Homo sapiens: one gene and its partners. The protein of the gene in region 3 purifies or fractionates together with the protein of the main gene of each other region. This does not show direct contact. Each region holds a gene or a part of one and is shown on either strand. Other genes may lie near its edges.

The links. The genes of interacting proteins can lie anywhere in the genome.
Region 1: the proteins of NAA15 (region 3) and NAA20 fractionate together in Homo sapiens (co-fractionation; one large-scale study listed by BioGRID). This does not show direct contact.
Region 2: the proteins of NAA15 (region 3) and GPHN purify together in Homo sapiens (affinity purification with mass spectrometry; one large-scale study listed by BioGRID and IntAct). This does not show direct contact.
Region 4: the proteins of NAA15 (region 3) and DDI2 fractionate together in Homo sapiens (co-fractionation; one large-scale study listed by BioGRID). This does not show direct contact.

Annotation. Positions count from the first base shown.
Region 1 is NC_000020.11:20,020,362-20,023,861, forward strand, and holds part of NAA20 (N-alpha-acetyltransferase 20), read left to right. Parts: intron 1-2,094; coding exon 2,095-2,119; intron 2,120-3,500. UniProt on the Homo sapiens protein: Catalytic subunit of the NatB complex which catalyzes acetylation of the N-terminal methionine residues of peptides beginning with Met-Asp, Met-Glu, Met-Asn and Met-Gln. Proteins with cell cycle functions are overrepresented in the pool of NatB substrates.
Region 2 is NC_000014.9:67,109,647-67,113,146, forward strand, and holds part of GPHN (gephyrin), read left to right. Parts: intron 1-493; coding exon 494-613; intron 614-2,214; coding exon 2,215-2,273; intron 2,274-3,371; coding exon 3,372-3,500. UniProt on the Homo sapiens protein: Microtubule-associated protein involved in membrane protein-cytoskeleton interactions. It is thought to anchor the inhibitory glycine receptor (GLYR) to subsynaptic microtubules.
Region 3 is NC_000004.12:139,385,005-139,388,504, reverse strand, and holds part of NAA15 (N-alpha-acetyltransferase 15, NatA auxiliary subunit), read right to left. Parts: intron 2,373-3,500; coding exon 2,275-2,372; intron 622-2,274; coding exon 421-621; 3' UTR 1-420. UniProt on the Homo sapiens protein: Auxillary subunit of N-terminal acetyltransferase complexes which display alpha (N-terminal) acetyltransferase (NAT) activity. The NAT activity may be important for vascular, hematopoietic and neuronal growth and development.
Region 4 is NC_000001.11:15,630,958-15,634,457, reverse strand, and holds part of DDI2 (protein DDI1 homolog 2), read right to left. Parts: intron 1,020-3,500; coding exon 893-1,019; intron 1-892. UniProt on the Homo sapiens protein: Aspartic protease that mediates the cleavage of NFE2L1/NRF1 at 'Leu-104', thereby promoting release of NFE2L1/NRF1 from the endoplasmic reticulum membrane.

The DNA of each region.
Region 1 (3,500 bases), on a different chromosome or scaffold from region 3:
TGGGGAAGTTAGGAATGAGTTACATGAACACTGGGGGCCAGGGGAGCTTCCAGATAGAGGGAACAGTAAGTGAAGACACCCCTGTTTCAAATAGGAGGCAGGCCGCATGGCTGGTACAGAGTGAGCATGGGAGGGTAAGGGGATAACAGCAGAGAGTTAGAAGGGCAGGGCCTGGAGAGGCCATCATAAGACCTGAACTTCTCTGCCAAGTGCACCAAGAAACCCAGGTGGAGGGGCCAGGAAGGCATCTGGGCATGGGCGTCTCAAGATTAGGTCTGAGCTAAAGATGGAAATTTGGGGGTCAGCACAAGTGTAGAAAAAAAGGCTAAGAGTTTGTAAGATGGCGCCTTAGGGCATCAAGTGTTCAAGTAAAGGAGACCGTGTGGCTCAGTGAGGTGAGAGGAGAACCCCATGGTCTCAGAAGCTGAGTGAAGACAGCATTTCAGGCTGTCCCAGGAGTGGGAAGCTGTTCAAGAGGAGCTGATGGCTCAGTGCACATCATATTTGTACATTTCTTCCAGGAAAGAGAAATTGAAGATGCAGATGCAGGAGGGAAAGAGAATTGCAGGAGGAGGGTCCCGAGTACTGAGGGGGTCTCTCGCCCGCACTCCGTGCCTATTGACAGGAGAGCAAGTAGCATATGGGTGCAGATGCCTGTGTGCGTGGGTTCGGTGGGCGGGGGGGGGGGGGGACTTTGGCAAAGACTTCTTCCTGTTTTCTCTTCTTAGTGATGAAATAGGAAGCCCCTGAGATGGCGGGGCTGGAGGTGAGGGTGCGGGTGGGCAGACAAGAGGAGATAAAGCAGTTCAGTCGTCGAAAGGTGTGGTGGAGTGACTCCCTGCACTGTATTAGAGCAGTGATTCTCAAGGAGTGGGCCAGGGTTTGGGGTCCCCAAGATTGTTTCAGGTGTTGTGTGAGGTTAGAGCTATCTTCATGATGTATTAAGAAGGTTTTTCATCTTTTCCACTGTCATTCCCTCACAAGTAGACAGTGGAGCTTCCCAAGGTGTGATCTTTCAGCAGCAAGCATAACAAATGCTTGAGAATCCCGTTGTCTTTTAAGCAGGACGTTGCAGAATTGTTAAAACAATGCCATTGTTGTCACTGGATTTTGTTTTGTTTTGTTTTCGGAAGTATAGTGATTTTTTTGGTAAAGGTATTTGTGTTAACGTGTAATTGATTTATTATTTTTGAGTGAATATTTAAAATTTTTAAATCTCAGTAGATATTACGCGTATAAACAAAAGTTCTTTGGAGTCTTCAGTAACTTTTTAGCGTAAAGGAGTTCTGAAACCAAACAGTTTAAGAACTGCTGGACTACAGAAATATGATATGACTAGCATTGTTATGGGTCTCAAAGGAGAATTTGACTAGAAATCAGAAGAGAACAGTTGAAAAGTAGCTGGTTTTGAACCTGACAAAATAGTGGCTCCATTAATTGACTAGGGAAGTGAGGGGATGGAGATGGGTTTTCAGAATGCAGATTTGGGAATGGTGTGCTGGGATGTGCTGGTGAGCTGCCCACAGCATCGGAGCCAGGTTGGGAGGCATCCACTAAGAACACGTGATTGAACACATAGGAATGGGGATGGTGGGGACAGGGAGGTGGGAGTGTAGAATAGGAGTGGGGAGCAAAAACCGAGTGGTGGGAGTGACCACATTTAGAGGGTGGAATAAAGGAGCAATTGTCAGGGAAGACCCAGACACAGGCGGGGAGGATCCATGGGGTTGGATGCTGCAGCGGGCGAGTTTGACCTTCTGTCTCTGCGAGATACATCCCTAGTTGGTCTCCAGTTCCATTAGCAATTTATTGCCACTTAGAAAACACAAGATGTAGATTTATTAACTTGAATTTTAAAGAAGCAAGTAGCAGTTAAGTGAAAAAATATGTAAACACCTTAATAGTGGCTGTGACAGCTTATTATGGCTATTAGGTAGATTAAATCATCTGCCTCAGCCCTAAAGTTGGCCTTAAAGTTGTTGATGAAACATGTTTTGTTTTCCTTGTGGCATATTACTGTTAGCTTTAGCAGGCTTATTTCAACTGGTTATTGTAAACGCTGCTTACTAGAGACATTTCTCTTGTTTCTTTCAGTAACTTGGATCCACTTACAGAAACTGTATCCTTTTTTACAAAAAAAAAAAAGTTGAATGAAGATTTACTGAGAATAAAGAAAACAGAAATGAAAGGAAAACAGAGGAGTACTGAAAAGTTTAAAAACTTGTAGGTCAGGAAACATCATAAGCAACACTGAAAGCAATTTTAAAAAGTGAAACTGAGAACAAGAGTTGTCTTAGATCTGCTGACAAACTGTTAATATCATGACTTGGTAGAAATCTGTAACATCATAGCTCCCCTGCCAACCTTGCCCCTCAGGAGTCAGCATGGCTGTATTCACCAGAAAGCACAGTGACTTCAGCAAGGTGGCTGCATAGTCTCCAGTGTGAACAAAGTCTGGAGATAAGCAGTCCCAGGCAGGTGATGCTTCCATGAAGACACCAACAGCCAGGCTCTTTGCAGTTTAAGCACTCTACCCCTCCCAGGGTGGCCGTAACCTTGTTCCAGATGTTGCCACAGCAAACAGCATCACAGCCATGTTTCCGGCAGCAGAAACAGCAGAGGGGGAGGTGAGGGTGTTCTTCCCTTTTAAGAGTACCTTTGGGCCTGTACTCCCAGCACTTTGGGGGGCCAAGGCAGGCAGATCACGAGGTCAGGCGTTCAAGACCAGCCTGGCCAACATGGTGAAACCCCGTCCGTCTCTAGTAAAAATACAAGAACTAGCCAGCCGTGGTGGCTCACTCCGTAATCCCAGCTACTTAGGAGGCTGAGGCAGGAGAATCGCTTGAACCAGGACCCGGGAGGCAGAGGTTGCAGTGAGCCGAGGTTGCAGTGAGCCGAGATCGCGCCACTGCACTCCAGCCTGGGCTACATGTAGAGCGAGACTCCGTCTCAAAAAAAAAAAAAAAAGGAGAGTACCTTTGGGAAATGCCACACAGGCCCGCTCTGTCTCATTGACCAGCACCTGTTTCATGCTTCACCTGTCTACTGAATCCTATCTAGAGTCCAGAAATGTGCCCTGCTTTATAAATTGGGACTTGTTACTAAAGTGAAGGCTTTGAGGTAACAATGAACAGTGTCTATTATTGTCCTAATGGAAAAATGGGGCAAAGATGTGAAGATAGGATACTGTGGTTATGCTGCTGTAACAGATAACCCCACATCTCTAGTGGCTTACAACACAAAGTTCGGATTCTGTGTTATGCTCTGTATCTACTGTAGGTGGGTAGGAGGGTTCTGCTAACCGGTAATTTATCAAAAGAGGGCATATAGGAGCTTAATGAACGTGTTAAGAGTTCAGTCTCATCAGTCAAAAGACATGTAAACTAAAACCAAAATGAGATGCCATATTTTATGTATCAGCCAAGATTTTAAAAAATGATAAACCTCAGTGCTGATGATGGTGAGGTGAGAGGAACATTCTCATAAATTGCTAGTGACAA
Region 2 (3,500 bases), on a different chromosome or scaffold from region 3:
ATTAAAATATTTCTGGCTTGCCTTTATTTAACCAAAAAGTTTAGTTAATAAAGTACTGCATTTCTCAAACATTAGAACTTCAATAAGTTATGAAGATTTTTTTTTGTAATTGTTATTCACAATGTATGTCCTAGCAATTTTTTTACTTACAGACTCTCAAATCACTTTACATATATTAGGAAAATGTACATTATTTGAGAGGCAAAAGTGGCAAATGTAAATGGCAGTTCTTCAAAAGTAAAGCAGAGCACCAAGACACCGAATAGTCATTACCTTAAAGTACACATAAAATCAGCTTAAATGAACCTAAAGCCCCTTTAGTGTGAGTGCACCTGTTTGTGGATAGCTTTTATTACACTGGCCCAAAATGAATAAGACTGTAAGACTTTCTTTTATGGTTTATTTTTTAATATTAAAAAAATTAACATCCTCTGCAGACTTTTCCTTTGCAGCAGCAAAGTACATCAACTGTCTTTTTCATCTTTATTTCCAGCCAACTCAGACAGTAATGCCAGGACAAGTCATGCGGGTTACAACAGGTGCTCCAATACCCTGCGGTGCTGATGCAGTAGTACAAGTGGAAGATACCGAACTTATCAGGGAATCAGATGATGTACGTCATCACCAAGTCTTACTGTGCTGTTGTTCCTATGGCAGTATTATGTCACAACCATTTTCTGCAGTGTTTGTGAGATTAACCCAGTTTTTTGGGTTGTTTAGTTTTGTTTTGTTTTTGCTTATGGTGGGATCTTATATTGTAGTATATGAGTCTCCAGTAAATAAGAAATTTCCTTAATCTTGAAAATCTGTTGTTACAGGAGGGGTTTCTATGATCATTGCTGTTATAGCAGAATTTGAATCATATTTGACCCAAGCAGTTTCACATGCAAACAACGAAAGAAAGTACCTCAAGAAAGAAATGCAGAGATATTAATGGTTGACATACCTTCCAGAGCAGAGATATTAATGGTTGACATACCTTCCAGCTGAGAAATTTGCCATTGAGACTAGCTTCTGATAAAATGTCAAGGAGTTCATGAAATCAGAATTTACTAGAGAAGAATTTAACAAAGAGCACTTGGGCAAGTTCTTGAATATTACACTAAGCCAAGCATTTGAACCAAATGACCCTTTCACCTCTGGTTTTCTGTAAGTCTGGAAAAAGCTGTGCCACCAAATGACAGCCTGGAAATATTAAGTGTATGTCAGTTCTCCCTCCATTGCCTCAAGTAAAAGATGCTGGAATCTTTTTGGACCTAAGCAAGCCTTTATCTCACTGAAAATAGTGGCAGGTTATTGAAACCAGAGTATAAGCCAGTAATAAAAGTAGAATAGATTCAACTGAGGTTTTAATAATCAGCTCTCTTACTTGTTTTATGAAGAAAGTAAAGATATATTTTAAAGCTGAGGTGAAAAATAAACATATATTCTCCCAAGCCGAGTAGATAGTAAAATTGGCCATGCCAAGAGACAGACACTTTCCCTGATCTGGAGATTTTCTTTTTAATCACCTTTCCATATGTAAGGCTTATAAAATTCAACCCTTGGCAAACAGATCACATTGCCTGCTGTTAAAACTGCCTAAGCAGATTTATTGGCATCAGGGAAGCCAGCAAAGCACTGAATTCCAGAACACATACATCCACAGACTCTGCCAGATGACAAGACACAGTTCCAATGTCACAATATTATTCACAGCCCATAAATGTAAAATTGATTACTGCAATTAATGGACAGAAATCTACTACCAGGCAAACTATAAGTCCTTTACTGAAATTTCTGCAAGTATTTGGTAACCTTGGCATGGTATTGAACCCATGATTCATGGGAAAAGAAGGAAGATATTACCTCCACACACGTTCACTTTATTAGGGTAGCCACCTACATATGTATATAAAAATATATAAACAAATTCTATATAATGTATTAGTTCAAATATTAAATCTTATAAACAAGATTTAATATTTGAATTGGTACATTTTTTAAAAGCATAAAAATTGGAGAAAAAAATTTTTTATTTATTGGCACCAAACCTTCTAATTTTTCAGGAACCTGTGTTAGAAATTCAGTGTTTTCAAAGGGTGTAGCAAATAGTTTTCTTTTTGTCTATATTTGTATATATCCTGGGCCTATCTGATGGTAAAAGTATCGGAGTAACTAAATTCTACTGCTCAGAAATTCTGTTTGAAATTACATGACCGGCTGTTATTATAGGGCACTGAAGAACTTGAAGTGCGAATTCTGGTGCAAGCTCGGCCAGGCCAAGATATCAGGTAACTTCAAAACACATAGAATATATAGCCTACTTTTGTTTCTACATGATCATTTACTCAGGAAACCCTGGCTACTATAAATCTGCAGCCATGTCAGTTAGCCATTAATTTTCAGGGCTTTAACAAAAAGCAAAATGAATGTTATGAATTCTGTATCACATATCTGCCCTGCCTACTTTTTAATGAAGATGGTAAAGGCGAGTTAGTCAAAAGCAAGATGAGAAAGAGGTAAAGTCATGAGCCTACATATTCTACAGTTAATTCTACTTCTAGATAATCCAGAATTACCCAATCCCATCCCTAAATAATCTGGAATTTGGTATCAACTCAGATAATACCAGAATTGGGTATTTACACAATTAACTAATAGCATATGCTCTAGTGACTACCAATAATAATGGAATAATCTGTTCCTTGTTATATACAAAGATGAGGCTATTTGCTATGATAAATAGTGCATATACCTTAAATTATTTTTCTTAAAATGGAATATGTTTACCCTGATTCCATTAATACTAATTTGCTGAACATCCCTTTGTAACGAAGCTACACTTCTCCCATCCCTATGGCAGCACACCAAGGTTAATGTACCTCAGTAGCCACAGATCAGGACCAACCTAAGTGGTCCATATGGAAATTACCTCTATGACTGTAGCCTCATTAGCATTATTCTCCTTGACAAAGCTAGCCAGCTGTGGACCTCTTATCATTAATGCCGCTAGATATTGCCATACAAATTCTTGCCTTATCAAAGAAAGTTTACAATTGGTATTTTTACTATAATGTAACATAAAACAATTTGTAAAGTAATTTTATTCACAGGTACTCATGAAAAAAAATTTCAAATATGAAGTAACATGTTTTTCTTTAGCAGTAATACATTCAAATCCTATTTCTGTTTTCTGTTGTGTGATTTAACTTTTAAAATTAAAAAAGCATAGGATTTTTAGAATCCCTTCAATTCATTGTTTTCCTACTACTTTATTTCTAGACTTTTTTGTCTTCTTGAATGTCCTTTTTTGACACTAAAGTTTCCCTCTGAGTTGAGAAAATGTTGTTCTCTAATCACACTGCTTATGGTTCTGCTTTGACTTTCAGACCCATCGGCCATGACATTAAAAGAGGGGAATGTGTTTTGGCCAAAGGAACCCACATGGGCCCCTCAGAGATTGGTCTTCTGGCAACTGTAGGTGTCACAGAGGTTGAAGTTAATAAGTTTCCAGTGGT
Region 3 (3,500 bases):
CAGTGAAAGAATCCAGTGCTAAAACAGCATTTATGCTGTCTGAGATATAGTAAAATCTCACAAGACAAATTTAAAGTAATATTTCTGCCACACACCTGCTTTGTTAGCTGTAACAGCCTCCAGATTTTATATAAATTAGTTTAAAAACATGGGTGGGTGGGGAGGAATAGGATAAGGTATCTTTTTTAACCACTCAATTTTAGCAGCTTTAATTTTTTAAGAAACTGAACCTCTATCCTGTAATGTTAGATATTTTATATATACTTTTTCAGCAGGATAAAAAACGTAAAACACTATTTGAAGGCAAGAACATTTACTCCTCTCATTCTGTGTAAGTTAGAGCAATGCAGCAGGTGCGTGACAAAAATATTATATACTAGATATGGTCCAAAGTCATTCCATTTGCTTGTTTAGTGATGTTCAAATTTCATTGGCCAGTTCTTCAGCTTCTGCAGAACTATCTCCATTAACTGTGATCTTCATATCCTCTTCATATCCAGGAGGCATGAAAGCCAAAGCATAAGGGAAAAGCTTATGACAATTTGCTCTATAAATTTCAGCAGCTTCTTTACAGTCTCCTAGGCTACCATCATACAAGGCTTCCAATACCTCCATACATGTCTAAGGAAAGAAAAAAAGTCATGTTGTAACTGGTCAAAAAAAGGTTCTTACTGGGAATTTATTAGACATTTCAACAGCAAGAGATTTCTAAAATAAGAAATAAATACACATATTTAGCTATTTACTCCTGCATATGCATTCTATTAGAATGTTCTTCAAGGCCTAATTTAACCATTTCTCCAGAATTGCAGGATTTATACAAAAGGCTAAACAGGGATGACTGCAGAAACAGGAATGGGACTATGGTGAGGCAAGCAAGGTATATGGAGTGCTACATTTAAAAAGCCACTCACTCTCAGCAAGCGTATGACCTTAGGCAGCAATGTTACCTCAGCCTAGCCTGGCCCTGGGTATAAACATCTAGATTTACAATGCCAATACCAATTACTGCACATATGCCTTCTAATATTTTTGAAAGCTTAGAGCCAGCCAGCAAACTCAAACACTGTATTCAACATTGTGTTCAAATTAAAGAGCAACTTAAGGCACATCCAATAACTAAGCAGAAAAGAGTGTCTCAAACATGAAGTGATTATTTGCAAGAAAAATTAGTTCATGAAAATGAGTAATTCTTTCAACCAAACCCCTAAGTAAGTCTGCTTCTTATCTTTTTTGTTGATTCATGTTGATTTGCATTTCTCATGTTTGCTTTCTTAATATTTTCACTTAGAAAAGCTACTTAGTTTCCACATGCAAAAATCCCTACAAACTTTGCCAGGTTACAAAGCAACTTAAATCCAGGTTACAAAGGACCTAGATTAGAACTTTAAATCCAGGTTCTAATCTAAATGGTAAAACAAACAAGTCTAATTTTTCTTTCTTAAAGATACTGCCTTCATTTGCTATTAAATGAATATATTTATTAATAACTGTCTTTCAGCATATACATGTTTATCTGGCAAATTATAACATGAGGTAGCTATCCCTTTGTTTCTAGTTTAAACTACAGTATTTTACAATACACCCATATTAATTTTTATTTAACTTAATCTCATATTGTATTACAAGTTACAAAATAAGTATTTTTATTTAGCCCCTAGTAAATACATCTTTCTTTATTTTGAGATAGGGTCTTGCCCTGTTGTCCATACTGGAGTACAGCGTCACAATCACAGCCCACTGCAGCTCCAACCTTTCAGGCTCAAGTGTTCCTCATATCTCAGTCCCCCAAGTAGCTGGGAATACAGTGCCACCACATCTGACTGATTTTTTTTTTTAAGAGATGGGGTCTCACTATGTTGCCCTGGCTTGTCTCGAACTCATGAGCTGCAGTGATCTGCCCACTTTGGCCTGCCAAAGTGCTGGGAATATAGGCCATGAACCAAAACGCCTAGCCAAAATACATTTTAAACATGTTAGAATCTCCACTGAGACCACTGCTTGCTCAGAAATGCAGAGATATGAAATGAAATCCAAAAATGACGATGGAATGTATATGATTTTATTAAAACATATTTCTTAAAAAGTTATTCCAAGCTACAGATGTGAAACTAGTTACTGAATGCCAAGCAGCCTAAATAAATTTTAAGATAAGTTGTTTCTGACCCAGATTCATAATGATTTAAAAAACAGTGTGTATAAATACCCAATTATTTCTCTTGGTGAAAAAAGTAGTTAAGTATTCTTACAGAGAGATTATGAAAAACTCTTTACCTGGAGGTTTCTGTTAGTGAGAGATTCATCAAGTGTTGTTGCCAACTCTATAGCTCGCTTCTGACTAGAAGGATCTAAGTAATATACCATTTTGGCAGCTAAATGAGAGGGAAATAGGAAATTTATTTCAAGGTAAAACCAACATCTTATCCTCTACTTATTTAAATATAAAAGGCAAACAAGATATATATGCAGAGGGTGTGGCACTTTATTAGAAGAATGGGAACAGCTACTTGAGATACTGTTATTCAAAAAATAATAATGCTAAGGGGATTAGCTTAACCATCCAAAGAAAGAGAACAATAGAGGTATACCACATATATCTACCCAATAAAATAGAATGTATATGCAACACATGCACAGTAAAGGAGACTATGAAGAAACACAAGCATTCTAATAATACTTGTATTTTTGTGGTAGGACCATGATAGTCTTCTTTCTGAAATAAGCAGAATAATGTGGAGGTTGGGGGACTATCCTATCTCAACAGTGTGAGCCAAAATGCTGAATTCAGGATTCCACAAAGGTATACAAAGCTGCTGGGCTTAAGCCAAGTATTTGAAAAGTACTACCCACATGGTCCCATAAAGGTCAGATTTTGGCTCATTGGCACAGACCCTTGACTTAGATTTCTCACAAACTGTGAAGATAATTTCAGGTGTTTAGCACTGTCAACTCTGATACCTACATAAGAATGAGAAATGGAAGACGATGGTCCTATCTGAGTGAATTTTAAGAGCCCAATGATGAAAAAAGAAATAAAAGAAAGCTCTACCTTCATTTTATGATATACATTTAAGTTTAGTTACACCTGCTTCTTTGTAATGCCAATGCTGAACCAGAAGAGACCACTGACTTTGATTTGTAGTGATTATTTTGCCGTAAGAAATTAAAAAATGTATAGGAAGCGCATATATATATAATATATATTATATATATATATATATTATATATATATATGTTTGGTTTTGTTTTGATTTGAAACAGGGTATCATTATGTTGCCCAGACTGGCCTCAAATTCCTGGGCTCAAGTGATCCTTCTGCCTCAGCATCCTGAGTAGCTGGGACTACCGGTATGTGCCACTGTGCCCAGCTTAGGAAGCTTATTTAAGCTGCCTGTTTTCATACGATCACAATGTAACATATACACACTGCCTCTTCCATTCTAAAAACATGTACCTTATATTATTGTTGATTCATTAAAATTACTGAAGTTGTTTTAGAA
Region 4 (3,500 bases), on a different chromosome or scaffold from region 3:
TCATTTAAGTAACCGGAATGATGACACGGTCCCTAAAAGGCCAAGCAGTCTAAGTGTAGTAAGTATCGTTGCTGTTATCTTCTTCTTAGTTATACTAAGTTCTTCACAATTAGCAACAAAAACTGACTTGAGGCAGGAAAAGCAGCTGTCCTTTTTTTCAGAGAATGACTGAACAGAATCTTGCTTGTGACTATCAGTGTGACTGAGGCCGGAACAGCGTCACTGTCCTTGCTTGAGCTCCATGCCCGACAATTCTGATTCATCAGATTTGGGAGAAGAGTCCAAGCATCTGCATTTTTAAAAGTTTCTCATGTGATTTTACTATAGCCCCAGGTGAGAACCACCGCATTACAGAAACTGAGAGCTGGAAACATGTCCAGCATTCAGTTTATCCACTGAGGCCAGTACAAGAAATGCAGCAGGAAAACAGACTTAGGACTACCAACGTTCCATCGGCGCAGAGCCCTCTCTAATCCAATCATGTTTAAGCCCTGGATTTAATCAGGACTTATACAATATGTCTAAAGAAAGAGAGTCAAATCAGCCCATGTAATATGCAACCAGCCTTGTGGTCTCACCAGATGGTGGCTTCTGCTCAGTCCGGGGGTCATTTATCTAAAGCTGTGTTATGATGCTCTGTCTGCTAGTCAGGGAGTCCTCCTTAAAATTTTAGAAAGAAAGTCATTAAACTAAGCACCTATATCTTTGTCATGTCAAATCGAAATGCATAGAAAATGAAAGAGGAGAGACTAACCTAAAAGACTGAGGTTACTATCTCAACTGCAAAACAGAGAAGCTACCTCCAAGCAGATGCCCAACCAATGTCAGATAACCTGCAGTCTGGGAAATCTGGAGTCTCTAAGTTTTGTTCTTTAGATGAACAGGTCTTTACCTTATATCTTCTTCTATCTTTGCCTGAGCTTCAAGGTCAAAGGGATCAGCAGAAAACAGACGAATCCTTTCTTGCTCTCTCCGGGCTCGGTCCTGCTGCTGCTCCACCAGGACTCTAGAAAATTTCTCTACAAAAATAAGGGAGAAAAATCTTAAATATCACTATATTTTCAACGTTTATCAGTACTTTTCCACACCAAACAATTTATCAAACTACATCTGTAAGAGATGCAGAGAGGATGCCTAAAGCTTATTTAAAATGAGCAATTACATTTACTTTCTGTTCTCTGAGTCAAGGCTATTTCATCATTTAAATTCAGTGTAAAGAAAGTATTTGTGGCTGGGTGTGGTAGCTCATGCCTATAATCTCGACACTTTGGGAGGCTGAGGTGGGAGGACCGTTTGAGCCTAGGAGTTCGAGACCAGCCTGGGCAACATAGCAAGACCTTGTCTCTACAAAAAATATAAAAATTAGTTGGGCGTGGTGGTGCATGCCTGTAGTCCCAGCTACTGTTGGATGGGGGTTCAAGGGTGGGGGGATGGCCTGAGCCCAGGAGGTCGAGGATGCAGTGAGCTGTGATCGCACCACACACTCCAGCCTGGGTGACATGGTGAGACCCTGTTTTTTTTTTTTTAAAAAAAAAAAAAAAAAAAGTATTTGCAAAAATTTTTTATAAGAAGTTATCTATCATATTGTTTCTACTCAGAGGTAACAACTTTCCAATTTAAAATGGTGGGGAGTGACCATGTGGCAGATCAATGTCTCCACTCCTCCATTCCTCATTGTTCTCATTATCCTACTACCTAGAAACAAAATACAGCATTATATAATCTCCTTTTCCTCTTCTAGTTTCATTTCTTTTATAACATGCCCTGCCTTAAGCCAGATACATTAAGTATAAACTATTTTTAGTCTACCTATATTTTGTGTGTGTTCTGATGAATTAATAGGCAGGAAAATTAGTAGAGAAAACACTGCTTGCTATAAGATGTATGTTACAACAAGAACCTATTTTGCAATTTCTTTTTTTTTGAGATGGAGTTTCGCTCTTGTTGCCCAGGCTGGGGAGCAATGGCGCAATCTTGGCTCACTACAACCTCCACCTCCCAGGTTCAAGTGATTCTCCTGCCTCAGCCTCCCAAGTAGCTGGGATTACAGGTACCTGCCACCACGTCCAGCTAATTTTTGTATTATTAGTAGAGACTGGGTTTCACCATGTTGGCCAGGCTGGTCTTGAACTCCTGACCTCAGGTGATCCACCGTGCCCGGCCTATTTTGCAATTTCTTAAATGGTGGTACATTTAAGTGTGCAAACTTAAATGCCCCATCATCACCATCTTTGGTGATTAGATATGCTGATATAAGAGATTAAAAGATATTATGACAATGGTTATCTGAACTACTAATGCACACAATACAGATGGATCTAAAAAGCATTAAGTTGAGTGAAAAGCCTAACACGAGCTGGGAGTGGTGGCTCACGCCTGTAATCTCAGTACTTTGGGAAGCCGAGACGGGTGGATCACGAGGTCAGGAGTTTGAGACCAGCCTGGCCAACATGGTGAAACCCAATCTCTACTAATAATACAAAAATTAGCCGGGTGTGGTGGTGCACGCCTGTAGTCCCAGCTACTTGGGACACTGAGGCGGGAGAATCGCTTGAACCCAGGAGGCGAAGGTTGCAGTGAGCAGAGATCGCGCCACTGCACTCCAGCCTGGGAGACAGAGTGAAACTCCGTCTCAAGAAAAAAAAAAACAAAGCCTAACACGAAAGAGCAGACACTCTATTATTCCATATACATGAAGTTTAAAAATACGGGAAACTAAACCATAAGATTATCAAAACAGTAGTAACCTATAAGGAGAGGAGATTGACTAGAAAGCAACACAGTGGAACTTTCTGGAGTGAGAGAAATGTCCTGTGTCTTGATTGGGGTTACAGGAGTTTGTCAAAACTCAAGGAATTGTATATTTAAAATCTGAGTACTTCGCTTAAGGTAAAGATTGCCAATTTAAAGACAGTCAATTGAGGAATGAGTCATTAAGTGTCTGTTATGTTTTTAGACTTAACCCAATTTAACTCATAAACCCAAGAGTAAAATGAGAGTAATTTACAGAGAAAACTCGATTCATAAAGATGGCTACAAGTTAGCTGGGTGCAACTGCTCATGCCTGTAATCCCAGCACTTTGGGAGGCCAAGGCAGGCAGACTGCTTGAGCCCAAGAATTCGAAAGCAGCCTGGACAACATGGCAAAACTCCATCTCTACAAAAAATACAAAAAATAACTTGGAGTGGACTGAGGTTATGGTGATTCCATTTTGCCATACAGGGCACTGAACCTTCCTGGCATCAGCTGGCATCAGCTGGCTTGTTGATGATCTCTTTAATTGAAGATCTAACTAAGGTTAAAATATCGGTACTGGCTGGGCATGGTGGCTCACACCTGTAATCCCAGCACTTTGGGAGGCCGAGGCAGGCGGATCACGAGGTCAGGAGATCGAGACCATCCTGGCTAACACGGTGAAACCCCGTCTCTAATAAAAATACAAAAAATTAGCCAGGTGTGGCAGCATGCGCCTGTAGTCCCAGCTACTTGGGAGGCTGAG